Homo sapiens: one gene and its partners. The protein of the gene in region 2 purifies or fractionates together with the protein of the main gene of each other region. This does not show direct contact. Each region holds a gene or a part of one and is shown on either strand. Other genes may lie near its edges.

Region 1 (4,065 bases), on a different chromosome or scaffold from region 2:
AGCGATTAGTTAGTGTAATGGTTGAAAGCTCAAGCTCCACTGTCAGACTTGGGTTCAAATCTTGATTCTGCCATTGACTACAACATGATCTTGGTAGATACTTCCTTCTAGGTCCACAGATGGTCTCATCTATTAAATTATAAAAATAACTGGAAAAATAAACATATGGTGATTATGATGACTAAAAAAACAAGAAAATGTGTATCAAGTGCTTAGCATAATATTTAACATACAGTGGCACTTAACAAGTTCTATTATCAGTCCTACAATAAATAAACGAGAGGTGGTAATAAAAATGTAGGCTAAAGTACTACACTCTCCTGCAGTAAACAGGAATTTTAACAAAGTGAATGAATCATCATCCTTAGTTTTTAAAAAATTACCTATATCACATATTTGCATACAATACTAGAAAGACATTGTTGCTGTTGATTTTAACATAATGTTCTTTAATTGTACTATATTGCAGGGCTGTCAGATACTTTTGTGATGTTAAGTTTCAGTAGCAGTTGTTTGTTATCTAGGATGGTTCTTTTACAGGCACATTCAATCTTACCAATTAGTTCTCTAAAGGTAAGTTCCAATTTAATTTGTTCTGGGGTTGATCCTCCTATAAATTCAGTCTTAAATTCTAGATCTGTGAAGGCTAAATAAAGGATCTCCTTCTGAAGTGACTTCTTAAACCATGGTCCTCTTTCTTGATCAGATCGAAGATCAGGTATTGGGAAGCGAACAGAAAGGTTTAATGCTGGTGTGGCAACTTGTACTGATATCCGACAATTTGCAGGACTATGTGAATCATCTAGAAACACTTCAGTGAAAGCCTTGTGCTAAAACACAAAACATCAAAAATATGCCAAAATATTAAAGTAAATGAACATAAATTACACAGTATTCAACATTACAATATGTATAATCACTATCTCCCCATTTGGTATAATGCATTAAAAGTCAATTCAAATTAACCACTACCATATTAATTTAGTGTAAAAAAATTTTATAATGCAACAACTATTAGCAAAAGTGAAAACTATTGGCAAAAGTTAAACTCTGAAATAAAAAATTAAATTAAAAACTGAGCCAAAGTGAAGACAAAGGCACTATATATTAATATTTATCTTACTATAAATTTATAAAGAATACGGTGTAAATTAGCCTACCAACAAATTCAATACGGTTAAAAATCACTGTAGTGTCCAACATTCAGTTTGAAAGACTTTTCTACCAATATATGATTTTAAATACTCAATGTGAAATCAGATGAATTATGCCAAATACAATCGCTGACTCAACTTTGTACTTCTAAGATAAAACCCAGAGGCTGGCACATCACAGGTTCTAAATAAATATTCACTAAATGACGCACTCTGAGCTCCTATCCAATCCAAGGGTATGATCTCATCAAATGGTTCTATGAGACCAAGATATATGCACCATTTTACCCAAAGCCATCTTACAATAAAAGGGTCAAAGAACATCCCATTCAAATAGAAATCTATTTCTATTTTTTCTCTAAAATATATTGAAACTAAAAAAGCTTTATTCCACTCTACGTTGTAACACTCCTCAGTTTCTTCAATCAATTTCTAACCTCCATGATTTGAAAACTCCCTGCATATGCTAGACTTACAATTTTTGTGTTTGTTTTTTTCGAAACAGGTCTTGCTGTATCACCCAGGCTGGTCTCAAACTCCTGGGCTCAAGCAATCCTCCTGCTTCAGCCTCCTGAGTTGCTGGGACTATGGGTGCAAGCCACCACACCCATCCAGACTTGGATTTTTAACAAATCTATTCTAACTCTCCCCATTTGATTTGCTAATATTTAACCACCACTCTCAGGCAAAAATAACCCAACAGATTAAACCATCATCCAATTGCATATATAGTTACAGCTAATATACAGACTACCCCACAGAAACTAAAATAACTAGCAATTGATAACAATAACAAAGAATGCCCAGCCTGGGAAACATAGGGAGACAAAATATAAAAACTTAACCGGGTGTGGTGGCACATGCATGTAGCCCCAACTATTTGGGGGGCTGAGGTAGAAGGATCGCTTAAGCCAAGGGGGTCAAGACTGAAGTGAGCTGATACCGTATGACAGCACTGCGGTCTGGGCAACAGATGTCTGTCTCAATAATAATAATAATAATAATAATAATAATAATAAACAATGCTAATTTGATGTGAATACTCAATACTAAGAGAAAAGCAAAGAAGTAGAAAAATAAAATATCTTTTTCCTTTTCTTTTTAACTAAGGTTGTCTCCATCTGATCCTGGTCCTCTGGCCCCAAAATTCCTAACAGACTTCTTGCAAACTTGACTGATTTAATTTGCTTAGAAAAGACCCCAGGCACCAGATGCAAGTAAAAGTGATATAATGTGATGTTCAATAGATTATTTTCAAAAGTATATCCCATATTGTTTGGGCTTCATGTTTTAGGTAGTTCAAGTAACTTATCAAATGTATAAATAGATAAAATTTTATAAAGTCGTTATAATCACAGCTTATAAAAACTCTGATAGACATGAAAAGTAAAGGAAACCTAATTCCACTGTAATATAAACAATGCTACTGACTGGCATATTTCTCGCCATTCTTTTTCTATACATCAATTTTATTTACACAGGTGTGACAAGTTTATGTAAAGCAATATATTCTACTTTTTCATTTAATCCTTGATGAGCCTTCTTCATGTTGTTATACCATCTTCATAACCATCATTTTCTTTTTCTTTTTCTTGAGACAGAGTCTCGCTCTGTCACCCAAGCTGAAGTGCAGTGATGCGATCTAACTGCAACCTCCGCCTCCTGGGTTCAAGCTATTCTCATGCCTCAGCCTCCTGAGTAGCTGAGATTACAGGTGTGTGCCACCATGCCCAGTTAATTTTTGTATTTTTAGTAGAGACAGAGTTTCGCCATGTTGGCCAGGCTTGTCTCGAACTGGCCTCAAGTGATCCTCCCACCTCAGCCTCCTAAAGTGTTGGGATTACAGGTGTGAGCCGCCACGCCTGGCCATAACCATCATTTTAAATGACCACATAACATTTCATTCAGTGTGTCTCAAAAACTTATTTAGCTAGTCTACTATCAAGACATAAAAGATGTCTCCTTTTTTTATTATTACAAATAATGCTATTTTAATTATACTGTTTAATCTATTAAAAATACTTAAGTTCAGAAATTATCTCAATAACCCTATTAGCTAACCATAATTATGATTAGTATTTGCAGCTTTTGAATACTTACCAGACTAATATGTTTATTATATGAAGTATACATGTGGGATGCCATCATCTCTACTGTGGCAAGTTTCTGTGGTTGAAGCAAGGAATTTAACCTGTCCACAATACTGATATCCAGCTCACAACACACTGGATTTAATTTAATTTGCAATTCTGCCTTGTGAGGAACTGAACTAAGTCTTGCTTGATTACCCTTTTAAAAAAAAAAAAGAAAAGGCATTAATACAATCACTAAAAACTACTATATAATTGGGTTAAAACCTTATAATTGTGACAAAATATATATCAGATTAAAATTTACAGGTGGCAATTATAGAAAAAGATCTCTTACCTGGGGCCCTCTATTCTCAGAATGCTTATAATGAAGCTGAAGACACACAGGGGAATGGGAACCAGTTTCTTCTTTGGAATGGAACGTTAAAAGCTTAAAAGTAAAGATGAAGATAAATTAAATGTATTAATCACAAGAATTTACAGAGGTGCCCATACAATAATGAGAAAGGCTTTCTGAAGTCAGAAATCTGGTTTTAAGTTTCATTTTTGTCACTTACTAGCAATGTGAACCTTAGACAAGTTAGTTAACTCATGTGATATCTCATCTGTAAAATGTAGGCGAGGATTCAAATAAATTCATTTCCAAGAAAGTGTTTTTGAAATAAAACACTATAAAGGGTCAAAGTAACAGCAATGAACATAACTTTGACAGTTTTCTAAAGTTTCTTTAGGTCACACTTTTACATTAGGAAAAATATCAGAAAAATGGTGAATGAACACAAGACATTTAACTTGTCTTAAACAATGCTTAGCACACAGCA
Region 2 (4,065 bases):
ATGCCCTATTGTAGGGCAGCAGCTGCAGGTATGTCTGGGGCTATGGTTGTCGGTAGCAGGGGAAATGTGAATGTCCCGGAAAGGAGCACTATTCTTCCTCCAGAATTTTCTTCCATTTTTGGAAGAAAACAGAAAGAAAAATGGTCTTCACCAAAAGGTGAAGAAATTAAGAGTCCTGTCACATTTTTCTGGTGGTATTTTTTTTTCCTGCTGGGAATCTCAGGGAGTAAGGGGAGGTAGAGATCTGGATAAACGCACAAGGGTTGGTAAGGACCCTGTTTAGAGTGTGAATTGGAGAAACTGAGGCAGAGTCCAGTGGCCTGGCCAAGGACACGCAGCCAATGAGAACCAACCTCTCCCAACAATGCAAATGAGCCAGGAGCAGCACTGGACCTCCATGTCTTCTCTAAGCTTTGCAGACCCTCTCCCTGGTGAACTTGGAGTTCCTTCCTAACCTTTAATTCCCTGAGCCACCAGTGCTAGCTCTGCCAATGGAGACTGAAGGAGGGTCTATAAGATGATGTCAAGGAGGGACAAGGTGGGGGATAGAACCTAGGTGACCCTCTTCCCTGGGGAAAATGCCAGAGGTTAGAGGACCATGGGATCTCCATGCTCCCCCTCCATGGGGCCTTGGCCACTCCCTTCCTCCCCCTTGCCCCGTTGGGAGCTCTTGGCCTCTCTTTGGGCAGAGTGCTCCAGTCCACATCCTACCAGACCCTTGACCCCGGGCTTCAGGAAACAGAAGCCTAGAGAACCTCAGCATGTGACCCCTCCCTGGGCCCCAGCTCCTTAGAGGAAAATTCTGCCTCCCACGCCACCATTCACACTCTCTCCAGGAAGAACTTCCTCATAGCAGCCACCCAGAGCTTGGGCTGCAGTGCAGTGCAGACAATAGTCCTTGCCTGGCACTCGATCGGCTTTTTCTTTCCCTTTTTGTGGGTTTTATTATTTTTGTTACAGGTGGGGCTGCCAGGGATGGGTTATGCCTGCAGGGGGAGAAATGATCAGAAGAGCCACAATTCTACCCTCAACCCAGGGAATGTGAGCTTTTACTGCCTCCATTTTCTTAACCAGAAATCTGGTTTAGTTTTGCTTTCAGGGCTCTTGTCATTGGAAAAAGATTAGTGCTCAGAACCTGCAGCCCAGAAATGGCCCAGTCCCATCCCTCCAGGCAGGCTCTGCTCCTCAAGCTGCGTGGGGAAATGCCATCATGGGCTTGTGCCCAGCATCCACCCTGCCAATGATGACAACAGTGATAATCGAGGCATTCATACCAACCACCATTTAGGGAGCCTTTATAGAGACTTCCCCCCAACAGTGGCCTCTTTGGCAGCTCTGGGAGACAGCCTTGGAAAGGGCGAACTAAGGGCCGAGAGAAGCAGCAACTTGCGAAGGTCACTACTGGCCAGACTGGGCCCAGTCTCCTGCCTCTTCCCACAGTGGCTGCACACCCTACTCTCTACCCCATTGCAGTAGGAAGAGAACTCCAGAATAAGGGGAGGCTCTGAACAGTGGAGTCAGGATCCGTGTTTTGACTAGTTTCAAGGTCTAGTAAAGCACAGTATCCAAGGAGGCTCAGTCCAGCATGGGCATGGGCTAGGGCTGGAGAAGTAGAAAAGAAATTTGGGCAAGTAGTGAATAAGACTGCCAAATCTATTGTTAGGAGAGCCAGGAGAGGTGTCCTAGTGGTGCCTTAGTCTATGGGAGAGACCCAGACACCATTCTGCTGGGTTCCCAAGCTGGCACCTTAAATTTAGTAGCTGATGAATCCAAGGAGCCCCCAAGCATCATCTGGCATGTTTTTTTGTATGTTTGTTTGTTTGTTTTTTGAGACAGAGTCTCTCTCTGTTACCCAGGCTGGAGTGTAGTGACGTGATCTTGGCTCACCACAATGTCCGCCTCCCAGGTTCAAGTGATTCTCTTGCCTCAGCCTCCTGAGTAGCTGGGACTACAGGCACGTGCCACCACACCTGGCTAAGTTTTGTATTTTTAGTAGAGATGGGTTTCACCATGTTGGCCAGGATGGTCTCGATCTCCTGACCTTGTGATCTACCAGCCTTGGCCTCCCAAAGTGCTGCGATTATAGGTGTGAGCCACCACACCCGGCCCATCTGGCATGTTTTATACCAACTGGAGTCAGGCCTAGAGCAGGGAGGTGGCTAGACAGTGACTGTAACCTCCATTTCCTGTCCTGGCCAAACCAATACTCAGATGGGACAGTGAGAGGAGACATCACACTCTGGTTACACACCATTAACCCCTGTCTGACTACACACACACACACACACAGCCGTCCAGATTCACAAATACGTTCTTATCACCCCCTTCATCCCTCAGTGCCTGGGTGGAGGCCCTTAAGCAGGAATGCCCCCTCAGAGGAGAGGGTGGGAGTGGAATGATGGGATTTCAGAATCCCCTCACCTCACCCTCTCACCTCCAGATCCTAGTCCAGATGTAATCCTGTCCTCACCACTTTGCGTGCACGTGCACGCACACACACATGCACACACACAGTCTCAACATTCACATACAGACACCCACTCTTGACACCCACACATGAACTAAAAGACAAACGTTGGTCCATAAAGGAACACACATGCTATCTACATACCCCCAACCCTGCCCAGTGATGCTTTCCCCAGCACTACTGCACAGATCCCAGACAATACAGACACACAGGCACTCCTTGCACACTGAGTCCTAGGCCACTTGGTTGAGCTGCCCCCACCCCACCCCAGCTGCACACTCTTCTACATCCATCCCATAAAGGAAGAGTCCGTCTCTTTAACCATGCTTCTCATGGTTTTCAGAGTACCCTTGCCCCAAATGCTGCCAACCTCCCCCTAGACTCAAGATCTTCTCTTTCCAGATCGCTGGAGGCTCAATGCCAGTGCACAGGAGGAGATCGCCTTCCACCATATTCCCTGACTCCCAGAGGCTCTTTCTAGGGCAGGGGTCTGGCCAGGAAGACTGAAGCCATGACGTCTTCCTGTGCAAGGATAGGAAAGATGTCTGTGGGTTGGAGGGTAGTTATAGGGAAGCAGCTTTCTCCACTTTTTGAGAAAGCACTTGGGAACAAGCATCCCTCTCAGGAAGTGATTCTCCACCATTCTCCTCTGATCCTATAGGCCTGGTGGTCCAAGCCTCAGGCCAGTTGATGCCTCCCACTGGGATCAGCAGACAAGGCCATGACCCTGCAGTGACCTCGACCCCATAATCAGGTCAGGTCCGGGCTTCATGGCTAGAAGCGAGGCCCAGGCGAGTGGCCAAGACGCGGCAGGACAGGAGGATGCGCCTGGCTGCTCTCGGCTGCTGGACGCGGCCTGCAGTAGGGAGAGCGCAGCCCGGGGTAATCCCACTCAGGGCTCCGGGTGCCCAGTTCTCCCACTTCCCATCCTGGCGGCCTAAAGGCAAGGCCTAGACCCTGGAGAGGCCAAAGTCGGGCCAAAACAACAGCGAAGCTGGGACTGGAACAGGCGCTGGGGGCCTGCGCATGACCCCAGGCTCAGAATGCGACACTCCAGTGACGCCGGGGAATGAGTTGAGATGGAGCCGGAGACAGAGGTTGGGGTTCAGGACGAGGCGCTTGGGTATGGGATCGGATCTGAGACGGTTGCGGCGCTGGTGCTTTGGGCTGGACCAGACTCGAACCCAGAGCGGAGCGAGGGTCAGAGCCAGGGCAAGAGTCCGAAGCCCAGCTCAGCGTCCAGCCCGCGAGAGACCCCACCATGAATGACGTCCGAGTAGGGTTGGAACTCGAAGCCCGAACGCACTGGAAATGCAGCCGGACGACGGCTGGGATCCGAGTGGGTCCGGGCCAGAAATGGGGACCTCAGAGCTCCACCGAGGCGCTCGAGGTCAGAACTGAAGCCTGAGACTTAGGCAGGACCCGAGACAGAGCCAGAGACGATACCGAAACCCAATGGACCGCGAGGACCGAAGGCAGATCCGGGGCGCAAACCTGTGCAGGCACTGGCGCGCTGCCTGGAGCTCTGGGTTCGCGCCGCTGAGCGCCGGCAGGTTGGACCAGCGCTGCGCGCCGGAAGTGCACTCGGGACGCCGGGG
Region 3 (4,065 bases), on a different chromosome or scaffold from region 2:
TTTTATGTTCCTAGTTTAGACCATGTATGTTTCTGTTAGCAAACCAAAAGAGAAATGTAAGGATAAAAATAAATAAATAATAAAATATTGGCAAAAGGCTGTCTATCTCTGACTCCAGCAGATGCCATGACCTTGTCATAAAGTGTGGATAGGGCATCATTTTATCAAACAAATACATTTTATATTCTTAAAAGACATATTTATTAAAATAAAAATAAACTAAAAAGAAGCTCTTGAAAATATGGCTCTATTCTCTTAACTGTGTTATTTTACATCATCAAATGATATGGTGACAATGAATCAGCCATAACAGGGTAATTAATAGTTTCTCTTTGGAGAACTGACATTTGAAATGTTATTTATTATGAATTTAAGTTTTTCATCTGGAAATCTTAAACATGAAAAACTGGGCAGGGTTTTCTTTTCTAACAGTTCCAGGTTTATTTGTAAATGTTTACATATTATTTTATTTTATACACACACACACACACACACACACATACACGATTTGTTCTTGGTATAACCATGAAGCACAAATCCAGGAACACAAAATATAAGGTGACAAAATGAACACACACGATTTGCTCTTGGTATAACCATGAAGCACAAATCCAGGAACACAAAATATAAGGTGACAAAATGTATTAAAATGCTTTTTATTGAATTTGATAATATATGAATAATAGAGATCATGAACTATTTCTGGAAAATATTCAATAGACTGAGGATATGCTACAATGTTTATTTTTGTTTATTATAGCTGGCAAGTCATTATATCATCCATAAACATCTGACTCCACTCAAAAAAGTCTAAACGTTTGGAAAATCTATGGTTGGTTTCATGGGGCATAATATACCATATTTTCCATTTAACAATGCTGCTGGTAAAACCAGCTGCCCAGTCCGGCTGTTAGTGACTACAGTACATACAGCAAAAAACAATCTGCCTGCTGACCTCCTGCTTAAGTTCAAACTATGTCATTCTGTCAGTACCATCTACCTTGATTAGGTTGGGCTTTATACACAACAGGTTATGATCCCAGAGGGATGAAAAGCTTTCCTAAATTAAAAGCAGAATTTTAAAAGGAAATACTCATACATTCCTACGCAGTTTCCATTTGATATCCTCAAGGCTGGCCCATGAACTCAAGCTCATGTTGATTGAAAGTGAATGTTTCTTTCTAGGTGTAGCCATCTTACAAATTTAATGGCAGGAGGAAAATAATAAAATGTGTTTCATGCTTCAATTAGACCTTTTATAACTTGGCACTTGAAAGATGGCAACGCCAAAGAAAAATCATTAATCCATAAAAATAGACAAAAAGGATTATATGGGAGAAGACAGACCTCCAGGAGTCTAGGTCCTTGGCAAAGTATACACTCTCGCCAATATGGTCTGTCTTTGTTTTGCCTCATTGTGAGTCTTCTCTCATGCTTCATGCTACTTGGATAAAATGTATACTGTATTTGCTTCTAAAATCCAAAGTAATACAACCATGCTTTCAATTTTATCCTTAGCCAAAGGAGCTGTATACATAACCAGGCAATAAAATGTTGGCTAGCCATGAAATGCCTATTCATGCACATGAAGGACAGATGAACGAACACACACACACAACACACACACACACACAGAGACAGAGAACTGCAAAATACAGAGCCAAAAGATAGATCCTTCCAATTTTTATTTTGCAGTAGTATGCAACAGACTTTCTCAAAAGGACCAGAGCCTTTCATAACCCCAGTCCAGACAACTATGGACACACAAATATTGCCCGAGTACTTTGAATCACGAGAGAAAGTGGAAGAGTGATGTCTGGAACATGTGAGAGTCTCTCAGGACCTCCAAACTCATTTTCAAGTGATGTTAACAGACTCTGTCAATATTAGAATGTATAAATTAGCTAAGAGTCAAGGGAACAAGAGATTTTTACCTCTCTTGGCCTCCTGCCATACCGAAAATGTCAGCACCAAACCTCAAACAGTCCCACTGTGTTTCTTCCTTGCTCCCAGTCCTGAAGTTCCAGCACCGCTGAAGACCGTTACCAAACCACAATGATTGGTATCATCACCAGTTCATGCTGTGAACTTCCCAAATCCTGTGATCTCAAATTGACCCCCTATCACTTCCAAACTGTCCACCCACTTTGGCCTCCCTTTCAACACCAAATTTTGGAAAGTGTCATGTACTTACTTCTGCATCCTCAACAGCTAATCACTCTTTAACTCCTGAATTCTGGCTCCTGTCCCCACTACTTTAATGAAATTATACTCTAAACTTCGCCAGTCTTCTCCCAACCAACTGCCAAATCTCATGACATGGTTTTAAGCCTCTCTCTCTTAACTTCTCAGCTTTCCACAAGTAGACAAGTCTTCTTCTGGAAACTCTCCACGCATGTCCTCTATACTCTCACTACTGTCTCCCTCTTCTTCCTTCTCCACCTGCCCCCATCTCCTGGCATTTCTTCTCTCTTTCCTGGGGCTGGTGCTGCTGCTGCTGGTGGTGGTGATAGCAGTGATTTCTCCCCTTCTCTCCCCTGACTCTTCCATTTCCTGTCCCAGGCTCTGTGACAACATCTCTAATCTCTTGCTCTAGTCCTGATAACTCTTCTTCCTAGCGCCAAACTCATATTTTCTTTTTCTTTTCTTTTTTTTTATTATTCTAGGGTACATGTGCACAACGTGCAGGTTTGTTACATATGTATACATGTGCCATGTTGGTGTGCTGCACTCATTAGCTCGTCATTTACATTAGGTATATCTCCTAATGCTATCCCTCCCCCCTCCCCCCACAAACTCATATTTTCAATGACTGTTGCACATTTTCACTTAAGAAGTTGGTCAACACTTCAACGTCAAAATAACCCAATCTAAAACTATCACTTTAACCTTACTCCAACCACTCTTTCCATGTCTTCCTGGATTCCCTTCATAATTACACCTTTATTCTCAGGCATCAGGCTTGAAGCCTGGTGTCAGTTCTATTCCTCTCTTTATCCATTTATACACTTTCTGTCCATTTTATTTCCAAAATATTTCTTCTCTGCACCCTCCCCAGCAGCCTAGTTCAAAACCTCTGTACATTTCACCTGGATACTTGCAGTAGCCTGCTAAATGATATTCCTACCCTCTTGCTATCAAACCTCCATAAGACCTAATTAAGATGGTGGGAGCACAGCATATTCCTACCTAAGACCTATGACGGTTTCCAGTGCCTGTTAAAGTTCAGAGCTCTTGTCTTGGCACTCAAGGCCTTTTTCAATCTGTGTCCATCCCTTTTAAGTTTTATTATCTACCTTTCTTATCAACTACCAACTATACTTGCAGTTTTTATACTTACAAATTGATAATAACTCTTTACAAGCAAAGAAAATATAAAAAATATCTTTACACCAAAAAGAGTAGTTTTTCCCATAAAAAGGTAGAATATATATAATAAGAGATAACAAAACTTGCCACGAGGCCAGTAAGAAAATCCCAACCATTAACAAAAACTTATTTTTCTTTTTTTCTTTTTCTTTTTTTTTTTTGAGACAGAGTCTCGCTCTGTTGCCAGGCTGGAGTGCAGTGGCGCAATCTCGGCTCACTGCACCCTCCACCTCCTGGGTTCAAGTGATTCTCCTACCTCAGCCTCCCAAGTAGCTGGGATTACAGGCACACGCCACCACGCCCAGCTAATTTTTGTATTTTTAGTGGAGACGAGGTTTCACCATGTTGGCCAGGATGGTCTCGATCTCTTGACCTCGTGATCTGCCACCCTCAGCCTCCCAAAGTGCAGGGATTATAGGCGTGAGCCACCGCACCCAGCACAAAAACTCATTTTTCAATGACTCATTAATCATACGACAATTTCAAAACTAATAAAAATTTAAATCGCCTACATAATAGAAATACATTTCAATTCAACCAGAGATCCAACACACTTTCGAATAAAGAGAGAAAAAATGTATTAACTGACTTAACAAAAACGCTATTTATTTAACTCACGCAGTATTGCTTAAAGAGTATCTACAAAATTCTTACCTCAATGTTTTCTTGCAAGAGACGTGGAAACCAAAAGTAAAC
Region 4 (4,065 bases), on a different chromosome or scaffold from region 2:
TTAACTTCTCTGGTCCTCAAAATCCACCTATAAAATGAAAAGGCTGGACTCTGAGATCCCTTCCTATTCTAACATCCTATAAGCCTATGAGCCTGTATTTCAACATGTAGCACTGAGCCTTGTCTTCATTAGTGCCACATTTCTTATCTCAGTCTAGGATAAAATCACACGGCCAGTACTTTTTAAAAAGGTCTGTCAATGTTCATAAGAGTCTCTGGGGTGAGCAGAAACTCTCTTGAACAGTCTACACTCACTAGTGCACGTCAGTGGCATGCTGGCACCAACTCATGCCAGTTTCCAAGAGCTGACTTAAATTTTCAAGAATTTTGTGAGCTGGTTATCAAACCGTTATAAGCAAAATGTGGTATATCCACACAATGGAATATTATTTTGCCATAAAAAGGAATGAAGTACTGACACAGGCTACAAGGATGAAATTTGACAACACCATGGTAAGTGAAAGAAGCCAGTAATAAAAGTCCACATACTATATGATTCCATGCATATGAGGGTCCAGAATAGGAAATCTATAAAGATAAAACAGACAGATTAGGGCTAGGGCAGAGGGATGGAATGGTGGAATAGATGAATAGTAGTAAAAGGTATGATGGGGTTTGAGATGGTGAAAAAATTCTAAAATTGCCTCTGGTGGTTGCATGTATCTATGAATATGCTACAAACCACTAAACTGTATATTTTACATGTGTGAATCATACAGTATGTGAATTATAATTAAGATGTTTAAAAAAAAACAAAAATAAACAGGTGGTACATCAAAATTAGACACAGGAGGAATATCTACACCACGGAAACTGGCAAACACTATAAATTAGCCCTGTCTCTCTTCATACCAAGCTGGCTGTTAAACATTTACTGGCACACAAGTGCACATGTCCTTTGGCCTAGAGGTTTCTTGCTGATCCAAATCTGAATTTATGTTTGATCATTTGTCACAAATTACTTGGTTCCCTCAGAGGGTATGTCCTGGACCCAGAGTTCAGCTCTATTCCATGAACAATCAGCATTGCAAGAAAATAATATAACTGTTAAGGTAAAACAGCACAGCACTTACGAGTCAGTATCCAGTGAAAAGTAATCATACAGCTTAACTATTCTGGGATGATCCAGCTCTTTATGAATCCGGTATTCCCTACATGCATGCCTGTAAACAAAAGGGAAAATTAACAAGAAGGTATATTGGCCTGCCTTTTAGAACTCTTCAAAGATCCTCCTAAATATTCAATCATTTCTCTATTGTCTCCACATGTTAATTCCATTCAGGTCCATCTGGTCCCTCATCTGACTTTTCTCTTTGCTCATCCTATTTTCTCCACTGGAATCTACCAAGCCATTGAGAAAATAATAGGTGCTCTGGCTGGGCGTAGTGGCTCACGCCTGTAATCCCAGCACTTTGGGAGGCCGAGGCAGGTGGATCACGAGGTCAAGAGATGGAGACCATCCTGGCCAACATGGTGAAACCCCGTCTCTACTAAAAATATAAAACTTAGCTGGGCGTAGTGGTGCGCACCTGTGGTCCCAGCTACTCGGGAGGCTGAGGTAGGAGTCACTTGAACCCAGGAGTTGGAGGATGCAGTGAGCTGAGGTCGCGCCACTGCACTCCAGCCTGGTGACAGAGCGAGACTCTATCTCCAAAAATAAAATAAAATAAAATAACAGGTGCTCAAATATTTGTTAAGTGAATGGATGTCAACCCTTTTCATCCCTTTCAAGTTCATTCTATGATAATCACACCTCTTTTCCACGTATACTCAAGTATCATAGATTTTAAAATAACAAGGACGGTTATTTTCCCCCCTCCTCTAAAGCTGATACATCATATCTGTAAATGTATATATGCTCGGGTAACATCAAAGGGGTCATTTTTAGCATGTAAACCCCTTAGGTTAAAGCATTATCTGTTACATAAATCAATTAGCAGTACTTTGTATTTTTTGTTTTTAAATCCTTCTTACAAAAACAATTTAAGTGCTATTAGCTTTACTTTATTCTAATAAAATATGAAATGTGAAATTATGGAACCCCAGTTTTCTTAGAATGGCGAATTTGATACAGTCATCCACTGCAGAACAACCCTTCGGTCAATGATGCTAAGCCACACATATGACGGGGTCCCATAAGAGTATAACAGAGCTTCCCATGAACTGAGGAAGAAAAAAAAAAAAAAAGTACAACAGAGGTGAAAAATTCCTATCACCTGGTAACCCAGCAGTCATGATGTCACCACACAATGCATTACTCGCGCTTGTGGTGATGCTGGTGTAAACAAACCTACTGTGCTGCCAGCCATATTAAAGTCTAGCACCTAACAATTATCTACAGTATATAACACTTGATAATGATAATAAATGAATACATTATTGGTTTATGTATTTACTATACAGCAGGCCCTTAAATAACATCATTTTGTTATAACGCTGATTTAAAAAAAAAAAAAAAAAAAAAGGGGGCCAGGCACGGCAGCTCATGCCTGTAATCCCAGGACTTTGGGAGGCCAAGGCGGGTGGATCACCTGAGGTCGCTGGATCACCTGAGGTCAGGAGTTCGAGACCAGCCTGACCCAACATGGTGAAACCCCGTCTCTACTAAAAATACAAAAATTAGCTGGCCGTGGTGGTGGCCACCTGTAATCCCCACTACTCAAGAGGCTGAAGCAGGAGAATCACTTGAACCTGGGAGGTGGAGGTTGCAGTGAGGCGAGACTGCGCCATGGCACTCTAGCCTGGGTGATAAAGTTAGACTCCGTCTCAAAAAAAAAATCAATTCCTGGTCGGCACCACTGTCCATGTGGAGTCTGTTTGTTCTTCCCCTATCTGTGTGGGTTTTCTCAGGTTATTCTGCTTTCCTCCCACATCCCAAAGGCACATGTGTTGGGTTCACCGGCATACCCACATGGGGTGTGTGTGTGTGTGTGTGTGTGTGTGTGTGTGTGTGTGTGTACCCGCCCTGCAATGGGATGGCATCCTGTCTAGGGTGGCTCCCACCTTGCCCCTGAGCTGCTGATATAGGCTCTGGCCACCCTCAACCCTGAGTGGGGAATGAGTGGGTAAATGTTACCTTGTTTCTATTAAACTTTCTTAAATGTATATAAAGCTCATATACATTTCAACGTTTAGTATTAGAAGTGTTTTAGTCTTTATTTAGAAGCTGGGTAATGTTTTTGTGACCAGGAATATGCCACAGGAACTTAACTCTTGTTTATGTCAATTAGCCTATGGTAAAATTGGTTTTGTTACACCTTGTTTCCCTTAAAGTTGTAGTTTCCAAGAACCTATCACTGCTACTAAGTGAGGGCTTATGTACTGCACTTTTTTTGTTTTTGAGATGGAGTCTCGCTCTGTTGCCAAGGCTGGAGTGCAGTGGCGCGATCACAGCTCACTGTGGTCTTTGCCTTCCAGGTTCAAGCGATTCTCCTGCCTCAGCCTCCCAACTAGCTGGGATTACAGGCACATCCCAGCACGCCCAGCTAATTTTTGTATTTTTAGTAGAGAGGGGGTTTTGCCATGTTGGCCAGGTTGATCTTGAACTCCTGACTTCAAGTGATCCGCCTGCCATGGCCTCCCAAAGTGCTGGGATTACAGGCATGAGCCACGGCACCTGGCCTGCACTGTACTTTTTAATTATTTAAATTTTAGAGAGCAGGGGCGGTGGCTAACGGCTGTAATCCCAGCACTTTGGGAGGCTGAGGCAGGCGGATCACTTGAGGTCAGGAGTTTGAGGCCAGCCTGGCCACCATGGAGAAACTGCGTCTCTACTAAATATACAAAAAGCAGCAGGGAGCGGTGGTGTGCACCTGTAATCCCAGCTATTTGGGAGGCTGGGGCAGGAGAGACGCTTGAACCCAGGAGGCAGAGGTTGAAGTAAGCTGAGATAACACCACTGCACTCCAGCCTGGGCGACAGAGTGAGACTCCATCTCAAAAAAAAAAAAAAAAAAATTTAGAGTGTACCACTTCTACTTATTAAAAAAAAAAAATTAACTACAAAACAGCCTCAGGCGGGTCCTTCGGAGGGTATCCCAGGAAAAGGCATTGTTATCATGGGGGTG
Region 5 (4,065 bases), on a different chromosome or scaffold from region 2:
ACCCCCACCCCAGCATTCTGTGGCCCACACTTTGAGAATCACTGCTTTAAGGTATTCTCATTTAGGACCCACTGACAGCAGAATCCATGAGAAAAGTAAAAGTAATTAAAGTCCCCTAACTAGGGCTTTTGATGTACAAATACTAGACATTATAAAGACTTAGGATTTAGGACATTAGTTTATAAGTTTTTACAAGATCTAGGTAACTAGAAGATTTGGAACTCAAATGATTTATCATGCATGCTGTACATATCAGTAGACATCAGAAAAGCCTTTAAAACCACAATTTACCCCCCTGCCTCTTCTTTCTGTTTGCTGTGAGATACAGTCACAAAGACAACGGGGGGACAAATGAAAAATTACCGAAATAACACTACTACAATTTATTGGGGGCTTCCCATGTAAGCTCCCAATAAATGTACCTTGCAACACATTAACTCTCTTAATTCTCACAAAAACTCTATGATGTAGGTGTAATTATTACTCCCAATTTACAGATGTTAAGTAACTTATCCATGGTCATTCCAGTAGTAAATGGTAGAGCTCAAAAATGAATTCAGGTAGTTTGACCACAATGCTAGACAGAAGTTGTGAGAAGTATTTCAGCAATCTTGGACACATCGTTAATGACTGGTTGTTGGTGGAGTACCACATGATCATTCAAACACTCAAGCTTGTTTCTGTTGAAGAGGAGAGTCAGAAAAAGTAGAGCCTAAAAAGTCCCCAAACCAGTTAAGTCACACTGAGGCCAGAACTGTCATATAGTATACACACTCCAGGGACAAGAAATTCCGAGGGCTCAAACAGAAGACTCCTCAGAGTGGCTCAGCATGGTCTGTGATAAACAGACAGAAACACTATGAGGAAGTGCTCTTCACACTACACTCAGAGGTTTTCCCTCCCACTTACACATGATTGTTGCCATCTCAGACTTTTCATAGTAAGTTTTTTTGTTTCGTTTTGTTTTGTTTTTGAGACGGATTCTCACTCTGTCCCCCAGGCTGGAGTGCAGTGGCGTGATCTCAGCTCACTGCAACCTCCGCCTCCAAGACTCAAGTGATTCTCCTACCTCGGCCTCCCGAGTAGCTGGGATTACAGGTGCCTGCCACCACGCCTGGCAAATTTTTGTATTTTTTGTAGAGACAGGGTTTCGCCATGTTGGCCAGGCTGATCTCGAACTCCTGACCTCAAGCGATCTGCCCGCCTCGGCCTCCCAAAGTGCTGGGATCACAGGCATGAGCCACTGTGCCCAGTCCACAGTAAGTTGAAGAATTCAGTAACAGAATGATTTTTCCATGGTGATTCCACTATTCCTCCCCACAAACTATAAGGACATTAAACGTATGTACATACAGAATGTTAGCATAAAAGACAATAGAATCATATAACCTAACGGGATAGGAACTCAGCCTCTTCGTATTGCAAGACCTGGAGAGACTTCCTAGGTTCCTTGCCCAAGGGTTACGTAGCTAACTAACAGCAGAACCGAGGCCAGGTGGTGCCTCACGCCTATAATCCCAGCACTTTGGGAGGCCAAGGCAGGTGGATCACATGAGGTCAGGAGTTCGAGACCAGCCTAGCCTACATGACAAGACCCTGTCTCTACTAAAAATACAAAAAATTAGGTGGGCATGGTGGCGGGTGCCTATAATATCAGCTACTGGGGAGGCTGAGGCAGGAGAATCACTTGAACCCAGGAGGTGGAGGTTGCAGTGAGCCGAGATCGCACCATTGCACTCCAGCCTGGGTGACAAGAGTAAAAAACTGTCTCAAAAAAAAAAAAAAAAAAATAGCAGAACCCAATGCAACTTAATACCAATTCATTTCTTCAGCCACATCATTGTGCCATCTCAGAGGTAGCCTCATCTCCTTCAAGAGTTCATCTGAGAGTTTGTTCAGATGCATCAATATGATTCCTATTTAAAAAAAGATTTTTTGAGAGACAGGGTCTTGCTATGTTACTCAGGCTGATCTTGAACTCTTGGCCTCAAGTTATCCTCCCGCCTCAGCCTCCTGAGTAGCAAATCTGTATTTTTATTGATAAAGTATAAATGTATATATACCCACTACTGATAGCTGTTCTGCCTCAACCTGAAAAAGCACCCCCCAAAAAATCACAAAAACACTTTAAAAAGCTCACTATTGAGATTCAATATTAACTAATTTATCTATTTTGATTTTGCAAATACTCCAACGGTAAACAGATTGTACTTTCTCCTCAAAATATTTAAATCTGTGTTCCTCAAAGTGTGGTGGTACCACCAGCATCAAAATCACAGGGCACCTGTTAAAAATGCAGGCACATGGAGTCATCACCAAATCAACTAAACCAGTCTCTGAAGAAACTCCCAAGTTAGCATTTTAATAAGCTCTCTAGTGATTCTTATTTACACAAAACTTATTTATTGAACAGTCTACAATATCCTAGTGCAAAGTGAGACGGGCAAGTAAACAAAAATAAACATTTTGGATTTTAGCTGTGCTACAAAGAAAATAAGATGATCTATCAGAGAGCGACCTGGAGGACTACTTTAAAATGAGAAGTCAAAGTCTGAGGAGACATTTGAAGTGAGAGCCCTTCATTCAAGACAGTGGTTCTCAAACTTAAGCGTGAATCAGAATCACCTGGAGAGCTTGTTAAACGAGACTACTGGACAGGAGGTCCGGAATGCGGCCCAAGAATCTGTATTCCTAACAATGTCACAGATGATGCTGATGCTGTTGATCCAGGAACCACACTCTGAGAACTGTTGATCTAGAAAGAACAGCCAGAGGGTGTGAATAAATGTATTAAGAGAAACAGGAAAAGGCCAGTTAGGCAGGAGGGCATTATACTCATCATTGTTTCAAAATCACTTGAAAAAGATGGTGAGTTAAAACCACTAGCTATGATCTCCAGACCAGAGATGATATCTGAGGTTGATCAATAATATCCTGTATTGTTGAAGCATTTCTCAGTTACAAAGCATTTTCACATTTATTATTTGCCTTGGTGAGATATAAGTAAACGACTATCAGCTACATTTTAAAGGGAAACTGAAGGACAAAAACAGTATGAACTTCCTTTAGCGTAAAATAGCTAAAGAGCTGAACTATGTCCCCTAACACCCAATCTAGTGCTCTTTCCAGCACAGCTTGATCTTTTTAAAGAGCAAAGCAGAATGGTATATAGGAGTTAATACTGACAAATTATTTTCTAGACTATCTAAAAACACGGTGGATGGCTAGACACAGTGGCTCATGCCTGTAATCCCAGGACTTTGGGAGGCTGAGGCAGGCAGATCATTTGAAGCCAGGAGTTCAAGACCAGTCTGACCAGTATGGCAAAACCCCGTCTCTACTAAAAACAGAAAAATTAGCCAGGCGTGGTGATATGCGCCTGCAATCTCAGCTACTTGGGTGGCTGAGGCACAAGAATCGCTTGAACCTGGGAGGCAGAGGCTGCAGTAAGCCGAGATCGAGCCACTGCACTCCAGCCTGAGCAACAGAGCGAGACTGTCTCAAAAAAAAATTTTTTTTAATCAAAAACATGGTGGATTCCAGACTCAATTTGTTTTAGATATTGGTTAGAGAGAAATATTACTTAAGATTGACAGCATTTGGTTAGTCCCTTCCACTTACTCCCCCTCCTTCAAAAAGAAAGGATAAAGAAATGAAGAGGGGATTTACATATTATTCTCTCTCCTTCATAAATTTCAGAGAGCCAATTTCATAACCTCAGTCCCTCAGCCACATCAGTCAAACACAATCTGTATTTCTGGGTTCCCTCTAAATCTCTTACCTAACCCAGGTTCCCACAAGAACACTGAATCCTATGTGTCTTACTATGGTCATGGGTGCACAGACCACCAGCAGTTATTCTCTGAACACCTACTAACAATTAGTAGCTTCTCCAACAACCAAAGCCTTACTCTTAACATTCTTACCTACATGTACCAATAATGCTAGAAACCCAAAACATCCCAATCTGAAAACATTTTATCCTCCCTACACCCCAGCCCTCACCCTCACCCCAGCCCTGCTTCAGTGTCTGAATATGTATTAATAGCATTGCCATCCACCAAA
Region 6 (4,065 bases), on a different chromosome or scaffold from region 2:
ATGGTCTCCATCTCCTGACCTCGTGATCCGCCCGCCTTGGCCTCCCAAAGTGCTGGGATTACAGGCGTGAGCCATCACAAGGGACCGTTTTTTTCTCTAAAGATAGGGTCTTGCTCTGTTGCCCAGGTTAGAGTACCGTGATAAGATGATAGGGCACTTTAAACTTCAAACTCCTCAAGTGATCCTCCCACCTCAGCCTGCTAAATAGCTAGAACTACAGGAACACCACCACCACACCCAGCTAATTTTTTTTTTTTTTTTTTAGACAGAGTCTCGCTGTTACCAGGCTGGAGTGCAGTAGTATGATCTCAGCTCACTGCAACCTCCGCCTCCTGGGTTCAAGCTATTCTCCTGCCTCAGCCTCCTGAGTAGCTGGGACTACAGACGCATGCCACCACCCCCAGCTAATTTCTGTATTTTTAGTAGAGACGAGGTTTCACCATGTTGGTTGGCCAGGATGGTCTCGATCTCTTGACCTTGTGATCCGCTCACCTTGGCCTCCCAAAGTGCTGGGATTACAGGCTTGAGCCACCATGCCTAGCCTTATTTATTTATTTTCTGAGATGGAGTTTCGCTCGTTCCCCAGGCTGGAGTGATATGGTAGTCACGGCTCACCGTAACCTCTGCATCCCGGATTCAAGCTATTCTCCTGCCTTAGCCTCCCAAGTAGCTGGGATTACATGTGCCTGCCATCACATCCAGCTAACTTTTTTTTTTTTTTTTTGAGACGGAGTCTCGCTCTATCGCCCAGGCTAGAGTGCAGTGGTGCGATCTCGGCTCACTACAACCTCCACTTCCCCGGTTCAAGCGATTCTCCTGTGTCAGCCTCCCGAGTAGCTGGGACTACAGGTGCGTGCCACCACGCCCGGCTGATTTTTTTATTTTTAGTAGAGACAGGGTTTCACCGTGTTAGCCAGGATGGTCTTGATCTCCTGACCTCATGATCCGCCCACCTCGGCCTCCCAAAGTGCTGGGATTACAGGCGTGAGCCACCACGCCCAGACCTAATTTATATATACATATATATGTTTTTGAGACCAAGTCTCGCTCTGTCGCCCAGGCTGGAGTGCAGTGGTGTGATCTCAGCTCACTGCAAGCTCCGCCTCCCAGGTTCATGCCATTCTCCTGCCTCAGCCTCCCAAGTAGCTGGGACCACAGGCACCCGCCACCACGACTGGCTAATTTTTTGTATTGTTATTAGAGACAGGGTTTCACCGTGTTAGCCAGGATGGTCTTGATCTCCTGACCTCGTGATCTGCCTGCCTTGGCCTCCCAAAGTGCTGGGATTACAGGTGTGAGCCACCACACCCAGCCCTAATTTTTGTATTTTTAGTAGAGACGGGGTTTCACCATGTTGGCCAGGCTGGTCCAAAACTCCTGACCTCAGGTGATCCACCAGCCTTGGCCTCCCAAAGTGCTGGGATTATAGGCGTGAGCCACCATACCCAGCCCCCAGCCTGATTTTTTGGGCAGAAGTCCCCAACCCTGGGGCCAAGGACTAGTACTGGTCCGTAGGCGAACGACACAGCACAGAGGTGAGCATTACCACCTGAGCTCCACCTCCTGTCAGATCAATGGTGGCATTAGACTCTTGTAGGAGCACAAACCCTATCGTGAACTGCAAATGTGAGGTATCTAGGCTGCATGCTCCTTATTAGAATCTAATGCCTGGCCAGGTGCATTGGCTCACACCTGTAATCCCAGTACTTTGGGAGGCTGAGGAGGGCAGATCACTTGAGGCCAGGAGTTCAAGACCAGCCTGGCCAACATGGTGAAACCCCACCTCTACTTCTACTAAAAATATAAAAAATTATCCAGGCATGGTGGTGCATGCCTGTAATCCCAATTACCTGAGAGGCTGAGGCAGAATAGCTTGAACCCAGGAGGCGGAAGTTGAAGTGAGCAGAGAGAGCACCACTGCATCACAGCCTGGGTGACAGAGTGAGCCTCCATCTTAAAAAAAAAAAAAAAAAAAAAAAAAAAAAAAAATCTAACACCTAATGATGTGAGGTGAAACAGTTTCATCCCAAAGCACCACCCCCATCAATGTCTGTGGAAAACTGTCTTCCACAAAACGAGTCCCTGGTGCAAAAAACGTTGGGGACCACTGCTTTAGAGTGCTTACTTAACATATGTTTAATGGGAAAGGCATTTAAATAAACAGAATCCCAATAATTTAATCTGAGCAATATTACCATAACCTGGATGACATGTTTCTGATAACAATACAGTTACTGTCTTATTATTATGTCAGCATGCAAAAGAGCATGAAAAGAAAAAAATACATAGTATGCAACTTTTAAAAAACAGCTTTTACCATCAGACACATAGATAAATTACCCTAACCACAAGTAGGAATTAGAAAGGTAGAAAACAAGAAGGCAGAAAATGAGGCCAGGCACAGTTGCTCATGCCTGTAATCCCAGCTCTGTGGGAGGCCAAGGTGGGTGGATCACCTGAGGTCAGGAGTTTGAGACCAGCCTGACCGACATGGTGAAACCCCGTCTCTACTAAAAATACAAAACTAGCCAGGCATGGTGGTGCATGCCTGTAATCCCAGCTACTTGGGAGGTTGAGGCAGGTGAACTACTAAACCCAGGAGGTGGGGGTTGCAGTGAGCCGAGATTGCACCACTGCACCACAGCATGGGCAACAAGAGTGAAACTATCTCCCAAAAAAAAGAATATATGCAAATGGCCAAGAACCACATAAAAAGTTGCTCCATATCATACTAGCTGTGAAGGAAATTCCAATCAAAGCCACAATGAGAAACCACTTTATATCTAATAAGTTATATCTAAAAAAGACAGATAACAAGTATAGGTAAGGATATAGACAACTTGAAACTGCTGGTGGGCATGTTAAATTGGTGTAGTTGGCCAGATGCGGTGGCTCACACCTGTAATCCCAGCACTTTGGGAGGCTGAGGCCAGTGGACACAAGGTCAGGAGTTCCAGACCAGCCTGGCCAACATGGTGAAACCCTGTCTCTACTAAAAATACAAAAATTAGCTGGGCGTGGTTACACATGCTTGTAATCCCAGCTACTCGGAAGGCTGACGCAGCAAAATTGCCTGAACCTGGGAGGTGGAAGCTAGTGAGCCGAGATGGCGCCACTATACCCAGCCCAGTCAAGGACAGAGTGAGACTCCATCTCAGAAAAAAAAAAAAACAAGAAAAAATTGGTGTAGTCGCTTTTTTTTTTTTTTTTGGGAGGTAAAGTCTTGCCCTGTTGCCCAGTGGTGGAATCTCAGCTTACTGCAACCTCCGCCTCCCTGGTTCAAACAATTCTCCTGCCTCAGCCTCCTGAGTAGCTAGGATTACAGGCACGCATCACCATGCCCAGCTAAATTTTGCATTTTTAGCACAGACAGGGTTTCACCATGTTAGCCAGGCTGGTCTCAAACTCTTAACCTCAAGTGATCCACCTGCCTTGGCCTCCCAAAGTGCTGGGATTACATGTGTGAGCCAGTGTGCCTGAATTATACATTTCAAATGGGTAACTTATATCTCAATAAAGCTGTTACTAAGTATATTTTTTAAAAAAAGGCCGGGCGCTGTGGCTCACACCTGTAATCCCAGCACTTTGGGAGGCCGAGGCAGGCGGATCATGAGGTCAGGAGATCAAGACCATCCTGGCTAACATGGTGAAACCCCATTTCTATTAAAATAATTAGCCAGGCGTGGTGACGGGTGCCTGTAGTCCCAGCTACTCGGGAGGCTGAGACAGGAGAATGGCGTGAACCTGGGAGGCGGAGTTTGCAGTGAGCCAAGATCGCGCCACTGCACTCCAGCCTGGGTGACAGAACGAGACTCCGTCTCAAAAAAAAAAAAGGCTCAGGTTTTGAGATCACAGACTTCAATGTGAATTGATGCTGCACTTTTCTGCCTGTGAATCCATGGGGAAATTTAACCTCTAAACAGTTTCTTTAGGTACAGTAAGTATAAAAGGGGAGAATGTCTACTTCCCTACAGTGTTTTAAACATAAAATAATATTTAGTTACAGATAATAGGTGTTCAAATAAGTAGGTTTATTATTTCTCTCCATGAAGTAAAATATTATTT
Region 7 (4,743 bases), on a different chromosome or scaffold from region 2:
CCACCACAGGAACTTCAAACGAAGATACACTTTCGTTCGCTTGTTTTAAAAGTTCTTTATTATCCCTAGATTATATTTTCTCTATTGTGTTTCTGCACTCTCCCTTGATCAAATAATTCTGTCATTTCGTCTGTCTACTTTCAGATTCATGGACATTACACTTAAGACATGACTAACGAAAAGCCTCTCTTCAGATAATGATAAGTTAGGATTGTTTGTGCCAATAGCCCAAGGCAAGGAATTTCTCATATTACTTGTTTGTTCTCCCTTTCAACACTTCGTATTTCTGGGTTTTCTTCACTGTTTTTTCTTTCCACCCTTCCATGCTAGTCTCCTGCTCAATCTCTTACCTTTTATCGAAAAAAAAATTACTCAACATTTTATTTTTTCACAGCTATTTGGTCTAATTGGCAAAGGATTCTGTGGAATAGCAGAATTCTAACTTTGCAGCCGGGCGCGGTGGCTCACGCCGGTAACCCCAGCACTTTGGGAGGCTGAGGCGGGCGGATCATGATGTCAAGAGATCGAGACCATCCTGGCCAACATGGTGAAACCCCGTCTCTACTAAAAATACAAAAAAATTAGCTGGGCATGGTGGCACGCCCTGTAGTGCCAGCTACTCGGGAGGCTGAGGCAGGAGAATCACTTGAACCTGGGAGGTGGAGGTTGCAGTGAGCCGAGATTGCGCCCCTGCACTCCAGCCTGGGGAGAGAGTGAGACTCTGACTCAAAAAAATAAAATAAAAATAAAAATAAAAATTCTAACTTTGCTGGTTTCCTAACCCCCAAATTCAGATGAATTTGAATTCTGAAATACAGTAACAGGAATTATCAGCCTGTCTGATTCTAAATTTTGTTGGATCTTCCTCCCAGGACCGTGGACAGCCCAGCCAGCTGTAAAGGCCTCTAAAAAGATCTGGAACAGATCCCCAAGAGGTATCTCACCAAATGAGTCCATTCCACTACAATGGCCAGAATCTTCAGTTTTACACCCTTGCTCATGCCCACCGCTCACCCGGAGTCCAGACCCAAGCACCATGCTGCGTAGTTCCTAATACGGCAAAACTATCCAGCATTTTTGGTGAAATTGGCTGGAATGCTTCACTTAGTCCGTTTTTCACTGTTAGCAGGAGAACCACCCTAGTATCTTTCATAGAACAGATCCGAATGACAAACACCATCGTGCCCTCGGAGGGCTGAGCTTGTGTTACTGGGTCTGGTCCTACAAACCCTGAAAATCCTGAATCTCTCAAGCAAAGAGATTCCCCAGGGCCAGCTCTGGCCCTTAACAGGCACCCCTTAACGCCAAGCTGCGAATCTGGCTAGGACCTCTATATTTTAGCCAAGAACACCTTGAAATGTACAGTCCTACCAAAGGAACTAATACAAATCCAGAAGCACAAGGCTAAAGAAAAAAAAAAAAAAAACCCCAATGCCCATTGTTGAAAGCCAATTGCGGGGTGAGTGGGGTGATAAGGCTAGCCCACAGCGGATTTAGGCGACGTGGGGAGATGCCAAAGTGAATACACGGTGACTTCTAAATCTAGACGTCTGGAAGGGGCCATGAGAGCCAGACAACTGGGCCCGAACCCCGCCCGGGAGCCAGGGTTTGCAAGGGGCTAAACCGGCTGGGGAGCCTCCCTCTCGCGGGTCCAGCCTCGGCGGCCCGGGACGCCGGTAGGCGGGGCCTGAGCCTCGCCCCGCCCCCGCTGCCCGCCATTCGGGTCACCTGACCCACCCGCGGCTCACGTGATCCGTCCCCAGCGCCGCCATTTTGGAGCTCCGGATGAGGAGGGGGAAACCGGGGGAAAAGAGGGAAAAGAGCCGGGAGAGAGGTGGGCAAGGACGAGGGCGAGGGCACGGCCGGGTCCTGGCTGGCCAAACGAGGCTCGCGGAAGCAGCAGCCGCCGCCTGACCGCAGGTACCGCGCCCCGGGGCCGCCCCTCCGCCCGCTGTTAGCGCCGCCGCCGGCCATGTGCATCCTCCCCTCAGGCCTCTGCCGGCGCTCGCTTCCTCCTCAGCCGGCCGACCCCCGCCCGGTGCTAGCCACAAGCCCCAAGTTCCGTGTCCCGGTTCTGTCTTCTGTGCAGCAAGGCCTGCGGAGACTCTGGGCTTGCCCTGCAGCTGGGGGTGGGGGGAACTTGCTGCTCCCTGCATACTGTCACCAGCCCGGCCCGCCCGCAGGCGTTGCTTCCTTCTCCAGGCGTTGCTTCTTTCTGCAAATGTGAGATCGCTTAGGCCAGCCGGGATGGACCCAGCCACGATGTTCTCACAGCATCTTTTGATTAATTTTCTAAGCTCCCTCATTCCCGACCCATCACCTCAGTCCTTTAGCCAGTGCGTGGTGTAGAAAAAGCTACTACAGAAACGCAGCCCTGGTCTTCTGCATTTATTACCATCCTCTGGAGATAGAATGATGTCTCCAGAGATCACGGAGACCATCAGGGAAAGTTCCCACCTCTTAAGACCTGGGGGCATCGGAATGAATGGTTTGTGTAGAAGGCCGGGATGATTAATAAGGTGGCGGCCACTTTCCCAACCCCAAGGCGGTATTTTTAAGTTTCTGCAGTGGGCTGTAATTTGCTATCAGTCTGCATCGCTCTTCTCAGGCAATTACTGGATTTATCACCTCTTTGAGTTTGCACTTTCTCCAGTACTCCCCTCTCACTCAGAGTATGGGTTGCATTATTGATTAAAAGAAAGCCTGGCCCTTCATTCCTTTACCTCACTAACTCGTTGAAAATTAACTTCAGGGGAGCCCTAAAGATGTTTTTTCTGCCCTGGCAGTGAGCTATTTTACTTAACCGTAATCGATAAGGTAGTTGCATTCTAGGTGAAACGAATAAGCATTTTTTTATCTTTTAGATTTATTCCAGCCAGTATAAGAAACAGTGGCAAAGAAATGTAGGACCAGAGTAGGAAACTGCGTTAGAAGATATATAGGTCACACCACTGTGTCATATCTTTTTATGCTGTTTTTCTGCCTATTGTGCTTGGTTGCAGAATCACTCGTTAGATTGTATTTTTAGTTTAGATTAAAATAGCAATGTGCAATTTATTGTTCCATTCTCATTAGAAAATGTTGTCAGTAAAACCAATAGTGTTGAGTCCAGTACCTAAATTCTGAGGTAAAACAAAATACACAATTATTGGGAGAAGTTTCCAGAGCTATTTTTTCCTAACTTCTGCAAAATCCTCAAGTCGGCTTGTTAGATAAATTATTTAAATTTGCATTACGTAATAGGGTTGCATGAACATTCCTCTGAATTTCTTTTTACATGGAATATTGAGAAATTTTTCACTGCCAAAAAAAAAATCATTACTTTGTTTCACCAAGAAAGAGAAATGTTTTGATACTATATACTTTCGTTCTTGGCCACAGCTGGATTTTGAAGATTGATCCAAGGGACTGTATTAATTTCAGGAATTGATTTGAAAGACACTGGCTCTGCCACTTAACAGCCATGTAACCTTGGGTAAGTCACTTAAACCACACTGAGTGTTTCCTTATTTATAAGACTGTATAACACCCACCTAGCCTGTCCTAAAGAGTTATGAGGATCAGATACCACTAACATGTTTGATAGAGCCTAGCTGTAAGGAGCTGTTACTCTTTTCAGTATTGATATTTTGTACATTTTTATTCTCATTGAGAATTAAGATGAAAATTGGTGTATTAGAGAAAGCATGGTTTTAGAGTGAGATTGGCCTGGATTCCTGTTCTTAAACCAGTTACCACTTTGTGTCTGTGAGTCTCAGGTTTCTCATCTGCAAAAAAAAAAAAAATACACAAAATTTGAATATTACACAAAATCTACAGAGGCATTACTCCCTAGACTTGCACCTCATGGGCAAGGATTTCCTCAGTCATTTTTGTAGTCCCCAGCATTCTGGTTGGCACATTATAGGTGCTCAATAAATGACAGTAAATCTGAATATTGGTTAATGTTAGTTAGACCTTATGTCTTCATTGCAGCTGCCAAATTAGAATATTCTCTCAGGCTATGTGCCAACTAAGAAACTCTAGACTATGAAACTCCATATACTTGTGATATTTATACTCATTTTTTTCTTAGTGGTAATTAATAATTACCTTGGGCTCAGAAGATTTTAAATCAAATAAATTGTAGCCAATATAGTGAGGTAAATCTATAAATAATGTGTAAGCAGTTTCCAGGTAACTTTATAGACAGTTTATAATTCAGGGACCTGAAAGTTCATCTAGCTTCACCCTCTTGTTTTACATCTGAGCAATCTAAAACTCACAGAGACAGTGACTTGCCTAAGGTCACACAGCTAATTGAGGGCACTTTAGGGGAGGGACCCTTGAGCTTATGTCCCCTGCCTTCTTTTGGCTGGAGCAAAATAAATTTGTCATATTTTAGAATTACAATAATCTGGAAGAATGGGGAATTTATTGGCCATTACTTTTATAGCACAATTTTTTTTTTTTTCCCATTTTGGAAAAAACAAATTCTTGTTCTGAAAGAGAAGGTTCTTTTGTATCATATTGTACTTTTCTTCATATAAACACAGAAAATTACAGCCTTTTCTCCAGGCCCACATGAATTGTTCAACTTGATTTTACTCATGATGACCATACTACTGTAATTATAAAGAACTAATTAGATACCCAAATAACCAAATAGCAAATTATAAGGAAATAAAGACAACTGAAATAATTTGGCTCCTAACTTTTTGTGAGAAAGATATTAATTAGAAGCATTTGCCTGTGGAATACTGT

The links.
Region 1: the proteins of LHX6 (region 2) and ATG2B purify together in Homo sapiens (affinity purification with mass spectrometry; 3 studies listed by BioGRID and IntAct, with this or other methods). This does not show direct contact.
Region 3: the proteins of LHX6 (region 2) and SATB2 purify together in Homo sapiens (affinity purification with mass spectrometry; 3 studies listed by BioGRID and IntAct, with this or other methods). This does not show direct contact.
Region 4: the proteins of LHX6 (region 2) and TLK2 purify together in Homo sapiens (affinity purification with mass spectrometry; 3 studies listed by BioGRID and IntAct, with this or other methods). This does not show direct contact.
Region 5: the proteins of LHX6 (region 2) and TRIM33 purify together in Homo sapiens (affinity purification with mass spectrometry; 2 studies listed by BioGRID and IntAct, with this or other methods). This does not show direct contact.
Region 6: the proteins of LHX6 (region 2) and QRICH1 purify together in Homo sapiens (affinity purification with mass spectrometry; 3 studies listed by BioGRID and IntAct, with this or other methods). This does not show direct contact.
Region 7: the proteins of LHX6 (region 2) and ZNF507 purify together in Homo sapiens (affinity purification with mass spectrometry; 3 studies listed by BioGRID and IntAct, with this or other methods). This does not show direct contact.

Annotation. Positions count from the first base shown.
Region 1 is NC_000014.9:96,325,093-96,329,157, forward strand, and holds part of ATG2B (autophagy-related protein 2 homolog B), read right to left. Parts: intron 3,675-4,065; coding exon 3,582-3,674; intron 3,444-3,581; coding exon 3,255-3,443; intron 831-3,254; coding exon 557-830; intron 1-556. UniProt on the Homo sapiens protein: Lipid transfer protein required for both autophagosome formation and regulation of lipid droplet morphology and dispersion.
Region 2 is NC_000009.12:122,222,217-122,226,281, forward strand, and holds part of LHX6 (LIM/homeobox protein Lhx6), read right to left. Parts: intron 1-4,065. UniProt on the Homo sapiens protein: Probable transcription factor required for the expression of a subset of genes involved in interneurons migration and development.
Region 3 is NC_000002.12:199,342,639-199,346,703, forward strand, and holds part of SATB2 (DNA-binding protein SATB2), read right to left. Parts: intron 1-4,065. UniProt on the Homo sapiens protein: Binds to DNA, at nuclear matrix- or scaffold-associated regions. Thought to recognize the sugar-phosphate structure of double-stranded DNA.
Region 4 is NC_000017.11:62,593,682-62,597,746, reverse strand, and holds part of TLK2 (serine/threonine-protein kinase tousled-like 2), read right to left. Parts: intron 1,163-4,065; coding exon 1,073-1,162; intron 1-1,072. UniProt on the Homo sapiens protein: Serine/threonine-protein kinase involved in the process of chromatin assembly and probably also DNA replication, transcription, repair, and chromosome segregation. Phosphorylates the chromatin assembly factors ASF1A and ASF1B.
Region 5 is NC_000001.11:114,504,613-114,508,677, forward strand, and holds part of TRIM33 (E3 ubiquitin-protein ligase TRIM33), read right to left. Parts: intron 1-4,065. UniProt on the Homo sapiens protein: Acts as an E3 ubiquitin-protein ligase. Promotes SMAD4 ubiquitination, nuclear exclusion and degradation via the ubiquitin proteasome pathway. According to PubMed:16751102, does not promote a decrease in the level of endogenous SMAD4.
Region 6 is NC_000003.12:49,059,179-49,063,243, forward strand, and holds part of QRICH1 (transcriptional regulator QRICH1), read right to left. Parts: intron 1-4,065. UniProt on the Homo sapiens protein: Transcriptional regulator that acts as a mediator of the integrated stress response (ISR) through transcriptional control of protein homeostasis under conditions of ER stress.
Region 7 is NC_000019.10:32,343,864-32,348,606, forward strand, and holds the start of ZNF507 (zinc finger protein 507), read left to right. Parts: upstream 1-1,746; 5' UTR 1,747-1,920; intron 1,921-3,381; 5' UTR 3,382-3,475; intron 3,476-3,621; exon of another isoform or gene 3,622-3,767; intron 3,768-4,743. UniProt on the Homo sapiens protein: May be involved in transcriptional regulation.